2 separate regions of the Homo sapiens genome follow, and region 1 is linked to region 2. The links come from fine-mapping of genetic effects on gene expression. Tissue or cell type: gastroesophageal junction. Region 2 holds a variant in brackets; the other region holds the start of a gene. All regions are shown on one strand. Distances are between the middles of the regions.

Evidence for each region.
Region 1: it holds the start of VPS13A, and the variant in region 2 is fine-mapped to the expression of VPS13A in gastroesophageal junction (GTEx, PIP above 0.99). The same link has a PIP of 0.9 or more in esophagus muscle and prostate.

Annotation. Positions count from the first base shown.
Region 1 is chr9:77,176,037-77,178,955 of GRCh38, forward strand. VPS13A (vacuolar protein sorting 13 homolog A) reads left to right here and starts at 1,498. Exons shown (of 72, transcript NM_033305.3): 1 at 1,498-1,768. The coding sequence starts at 1,669. VPS13A-AS1 (VPS13A antisense RNA 1) reads right to left here and starts at 1,881. Exons shown (of 2, transcript NR_026668.2): 1 at 1,591-1,881; 2 at 720-870. RefSeq lists silencers at 1,126-1,455, 1,217-1,511, 2,494-2,663 and an enhancer at 1,217-1,511.
Region 2 is chr9:77,219,892-77,222,810 of GRCh38, forward strand. It overlaps VPS13A (vacuolar protein sorting 13 homolog A), which reads left to right. Exons shown (of 72, transcript NM_033305.3): 11 at 63-190; 12 at 386-492; 13 at 1,294-1,465. Among named protein-coding and RNA genes, the nearest start is that of VPS13A-AS1, 43 kb to the left of the region's middle. The variant G/A (reference allele first, on the strand shown) is at 1,599.

The DNA of each region.
Region 1 (2,919 bases), 44 kb before region 2:
TTTCCTAGATCGTAGAAAACTAATATGAAAACGTTTGCAAGATACTTAAGATGGATTTTTGGAGTTCTGGAAATTCTTGTAACTTTGAATTTGCAGCGCTAGATATAACAGCGGAATTTTGCAGCTACTGTGTATCTGGCTTCTTATTAATAGTGCAATGGCAAAATGCCTCATTATGTAGAGCTCTTCCCCTTCCTAGGCATTTTAGCCTCTATTCGTTTCTCCGTGCAGGTATTCTGAAGCAGACTGTTAGCTGAATGAGAGAGAAGCAGGTGGGGTGGTAGCCAATCAGAAGGGCCAAGTTCCAGTTCTTCCACAGAACATTGGTTGTATGACCTTGCACACATCCCTAACACTTCAGCTTCATTATATTTAAGACTAGGAGGTTGGAGACCTCATAAAGGTCCTTCAAATATAAAATTATATGAAAAACATTCATAAACTCAGGTAAAAACTTACAGTTTTTGTCAGGCATTCTACTTGCAAAGGCACACCCTAAACATTTAATTTTGAAAAGTCGGTGACTATGCACAAAAAGTAGTAAAATGACACAGGAATTAATAGAAATCCATCATTATTCATTTAACGTGTAAAGAGAAAACGCTCAATGTACACTTTTTCGGTCCTGCAGATGATTAATTACAGTTCTCTAAACCTCACATTTAGCATCTCTGTGACCTCAGGCCTTTGGGATTACTTCTAAGTAAGACCAAACAGGTCGAAAGATCTGTAATTGTAATTTATTTTAGGTCAGTGGTTCGGTGGAGGCATAGGGGTCAAGGGTCCAGCACTCCCAGTATTTCTTGGAGGGTGTTCAGCAGTTTCCAGACCGGCTGACTCCAACTCTTATCTGCAGGGAAGCGTGTTACTCTTTGGAATGAAAGACAGCTCCGTATAAATGACTTGACCAAAAATGGGTGCTCATCTCAGATGCAGGGCAGGGACTATGTAACTCCATCCTCGACTCGCAGCAGGAAGTTAACTCCTCCTGAGAGCCAGGCGGTCGGAGGACCAGGCGGGGAGGTTACAGGCACCAAGACACCCAGGCTGGCTGGACCCTCCCACCCTGTAATGATGAGGGGAGATGCTCCCTGGGACAGCCCCCTTGAAGCTTCTGGCGACGGGGCTGGGATCCGCCCACCCTTACTCAGGGGCGAGCCCTGTCATACGCGTGGAAGCGGCCACCACCTTCTAGGGGGAGGGGCGTTCCCGTCGGGCGTAACCGCCCCGCCCTGGGGGGCCGCTGGGGACGCTGATCTGCAGGAGGGGGCGGGGTCGGAAAAAATCCGGTAGCTCCAGACCGGTGTCCCGTTGCCAGGCGATGGGGAGGAGGCGGGGCCGACAGGAAAGAGGAGCCGGGCTCGGCGCGAAAAGGGCACCCTCCAGAGCCGCGGCCGCGCAGCCGCCTTTCCTCCCTCTCAGGGCTGCGCGCCCAGGTCTGCGCCGCGCTCCGCCTCCAGCCGCGCGCAGACTTGCGCACGCGTCGTGAGAGCGACCGCCTCCGTCTCTCGCTGGGCTCGCTAGGGCTGCGCGTTGGGCCAGCGGGGGCGCCGCAGCTGAAGCCGCCCCGGAGCCGGTGAACCGAATTACCTCGAGGGAGGGGCGTGGGGAAGGCGGCGGGAGGAGGAGCGCACGGGCCGGCTGCCGTGCCCACCACGGCTGAGGAACATGGTTTTCGAGTCGGTGGTCGTGGACGTGTTGAACCGGTTCTTGGGGGACTATGTGGTGGACTTGGACACGTCCCAGCTCTCTCTGGGCATCTGGAAAGGTAAGGAGGCCGCCGCCGCCGCTCCCCGGCCTCTCGTGCTTCCCGGCCGTCTCGCTGCCCGAGCGGCGTCCTGCGTTCTCGGGGCTTCGAGCACCTTGCTCGCCGGGTGCAGCCACCTGCCGCCGCCCGCCTGTGGGTCAAGTTACGTAAAGCCGGGCGGCAGTTCCCTGGCCTCCGCCCTCGAGTTGTTTATATTTTGGGGGAAAGGAGAGGGTCATGAGTGCGGGATGAAAAGGTCTATATTTTCCGAGCGGAGCGGACTTGCCGTGGGCTCCGTGGGTCTGGCGTTCAAGTCCCGGCGAGGGGCCGTTCTCTACCCCTGGCCCCGCACGGTCCGGCTTTAGCCGCGCGGGGCGAGGAGGCGAGACGACGCCTTCCTGGGCTGGGTCCCATCCCTGTCCTTTGCCCCCCTGGGTTTATGACGAAGGCCCCAGAAATCCCCCGCGTGTTGCATGCTGCCTCGCACGTGAAGGCAGGGCGCTGTGACCGGGGACGCCCGCTTCCTTGCTTCCCCAGCCTCAATTCCTGGCTTCACCCGTGGTGCTTTCTGCTCTCCCCCTTCCGGCCCTAGGACCCGGACGCCGGCTCTCTCTCGCCTGGGTTCGGCGGATAACAAAAAGGAAACTCAAGTGCAAAGTAACTCAAACAGTTGCTTGTGTGGTTGCAGTTAACAGCCTGACCTAGGAATGTGTAACATTTTCAAGACTTTAGGATATGTGGGTCAGAGTGAATTGCCGAATTTTAAAGAAAAACCAGGGCGTGCGGTGCAACGTCTCAGACCTGCAAAAGACCGGGCTGAACAGGGCCCTACGCTGCCTAGGTGGTGAAGGACCGAGCTTTCCTTGTGTCCGTTTAGTGTGGTATTCTGCCTTAGTGAGAGCCTCATTTTTAGTGTTTCCATCTGTTTTTGCATTATGCGCTTGTTTATTTTAAACACCCGCTAGAAATTAGACTCCTTTGTGAAATGAATTTCCCAGGCCAAAGTGAGGGTTAATTTTGTGTGTGAAGTGTGTGTGTTTAAATATATATTTAAAGTAATTTATTCTTGTCTGTGCACACACTTCCAGTCTTCTTCTAAAATACTTACCTTGACTCTTCTCGTTTATGAGATAATGTAAACAGGTAGTTTAGTTTGATTTTAAAGAATGTTA
Region 2 (2,919 bases):
TTTATTGCCTTGAGACTTTGGAAATATAACTCAGTTTTTTTTCCATTTTTATTATTTTTCAGTATTTCGTCCCATATCTGCTAATGCCAAACTTGTGATGAATCGCCGATCTGATTTTGACTTTTCTGCCCCCAAAATAAACTTGGAAATTGAGTTACATAACATAGCAATTGAATTTAATAAACCACAGGTGATTTTCTTTAATATAATTTTCAATTGTGAATTATTGTTTGATAAAAGCAAAACTAAGATTTTAAATGTTTCACTAAAATTCATGATGTTATATGGTAGCATTTCCCTAAAAAGTCAGTAATGTAACTTTTATCTTCAGCAATTGAACAAAAAAATGTGATACATTTAAGAGCTTTAATTTTCCATTCTTTAGTATTTCAGTATTATGGAGCTTCTTGAATCAGTTGATATGATGGCACAAAATCTGCCATATAGGAAGTTCAAACCTGATGTGCCTCTTCACCACCATGCCAGAGAATGGTAAATGCCTTGATTTTTTTTTTTTTTTAGATTTTAAAAATACAACATAAAAATAAATTTCTCGACTTCAAGAATAATCTTTAAGATATACCATTTTTAAGGTCTGATACAAACCATAATTGATTTATAGCTAGAAATATATGTAGCTGCTTTAGCTTATTGAGTTAATGAAACTGATTTAAGGGATTCTTGCTAACACAGTTTACAACTCGAGATGCTCGAATACCATAGTTTTCATTTACTATGGACGGGTCAGTATATTTAGAATTATTACAAAAACAAATCCTGGTTTGTTTTCTTGCATTGTCTCTCCCCAACCCCCACCTCAGCTTCCCTATCAGATACACTGAACCAATATTATTAAACCTGTATTTTAAAAGCTAAAAATGTTACGGAGTCTATGCAGGATAATCCCATTTTAAAACTCAAAAGTCTTGTTATTCCAGTTTTTAAGCTATTCCCTAGTTTCTAGAAGTTACAATTACTCTTTCAGTTGACTATTTCAGTTATTATTCAGATGACTAAATGTTATTTGCCAATTAATGCCTTAACAGTTCTTGTGTAGAACTATATTTAACAAAATGGAGTGATTTTGCTTATTTTCACTTAAGAAAGAGGAAAGATTAATATTGAATGGATTATTAATGCAAATGGAGTTGGGTAAAAAGGAAGTACTCAGATAATATATCATTTTCCTAATCTTTGTATTATAGTTATGTATGTTGTTAGAGTAGAAGCAATGTCAGTAATGTTTCATACTGTTGATTTGAGGGTGTTAAATGTTTTTCTTTTTTTAACTAGGTGGGCTTATGCTATACATGGCGTTCTTGAAGTAAATGTTTGCCCCAGGTTATGGATGTGGTCATGGAAGCATATTAGAAAACATAGGCAAAAAGTGAAGCAATATAAAGAACTGTATAAAAAAAAGTTAACAAGTAAGAAGCCACCTGGTGAACTTCTCGTGTCTTTGGAGGTTAGCATTTAAAATGAAATTGTTGAGTGTTTTATACTACATAGCTCCTTATTGGTCTTCAGTGACTGATACTCCCTACCTTTCATTCCAATTTTTATTGACCTTTTCATCTCTTTTACTTAGACTTTTTTGT[G/A]CTTCTGTTCTTAACTTCAGCTGAATAATACAAGATTTGTTGAAATTCTCCAGTGAGCTTTTGAAATTCGAGATTATTCTCAATCGGAAGGAATTTGGGTTCATGCAAATAGTATGATTATGTCATTTTTAACCTCAAAAGTCTAAATAGTGTTTGCTACATTGATTCCAACTTCTCTGTGTTGGTTTCAAAGCCTTTTATGTGTCACCACTACATTTTCCCTATGTTACAATCTGACCATGCACTAATTTAATGTTTCCTGTACTCTGTATATTTAATGCTCATTCTTTTAGCCACGCCTATGCTCATAAATGCTACCTGCCTTTATCTCTCTACCTACTCAATTCTACTCATCCCTGAAGTTCTACTTAAGTCTTAGTGCTTGCATGAATGTCTCTGAATTTTCTGCTTATACAGAGCCCTTTTTCTCTTAATTTTTGTGGTATCTCTAGTCTCTACCAGTAGTTTTACATTTAATTATCTATCTTGAGATATTATTTTTGTATTAATCTTGTCTTTTAGCATTATGACATATTTCAAGAGGGACTCTTTTACAAATTGATGAACTATAGCTTAGAGAGATTAAGGGGAGTTAGTCTCTTGAAGTTAATGTAAACATTCTGAATCCAGAATGAATTTCTAATTTATAGATTAGATTGACTTTTACTTTTATTTTCAATGTGGGAGACTTTCTGAAGACCTAGGGCTGTTAGGAATGCCTGGGCTTAGAGTCTTTGGGGGATGGGTTCAGGTTGTCTTAGTCTTGAATCATAACCTGAGTCCTCCAAGTCTGGATAGGAGAACCCTGAATAAGTTATTCTGAAATAATAATGGGTTGTAGTTACTTCTCTTGGGGGAAACATAGTTTGATCATGAAATTCTCAAAAGTAATTATGGGTATGTCAAGATAGCTGTGATGAAAGATTTAGCTAATCTCAGCTTATTTCAATAGCTATGACAACTATGAAAAGTGTTAAGTATTAAAAACAAGTTTTAAGTGTATCTGGGTCTACTTGAAATACAGGCATACTTCACTTTATTGTGCTTTGCAGACATTGTGTTTTTTACAAATTGAAGGTTTGTGGCAACACTGTGTCTAGCAAATCTGTCGGCACCATTTTTCCAATAGCATTTATTCCTGTCTATGTGTCACATTTTGGTAATTCCCACAATATTTGAAACTGTTTCATTATTATTATATCTGTTATGATGATCTATGATCAGTGATCTTTGCTGTTACTGTTGTAACTGTTTTGGGGTGCCACAAACTGCATCCATATAAGACAGCTGTTAAATTAAGTTTAGACTAAAGCTGCCTCCT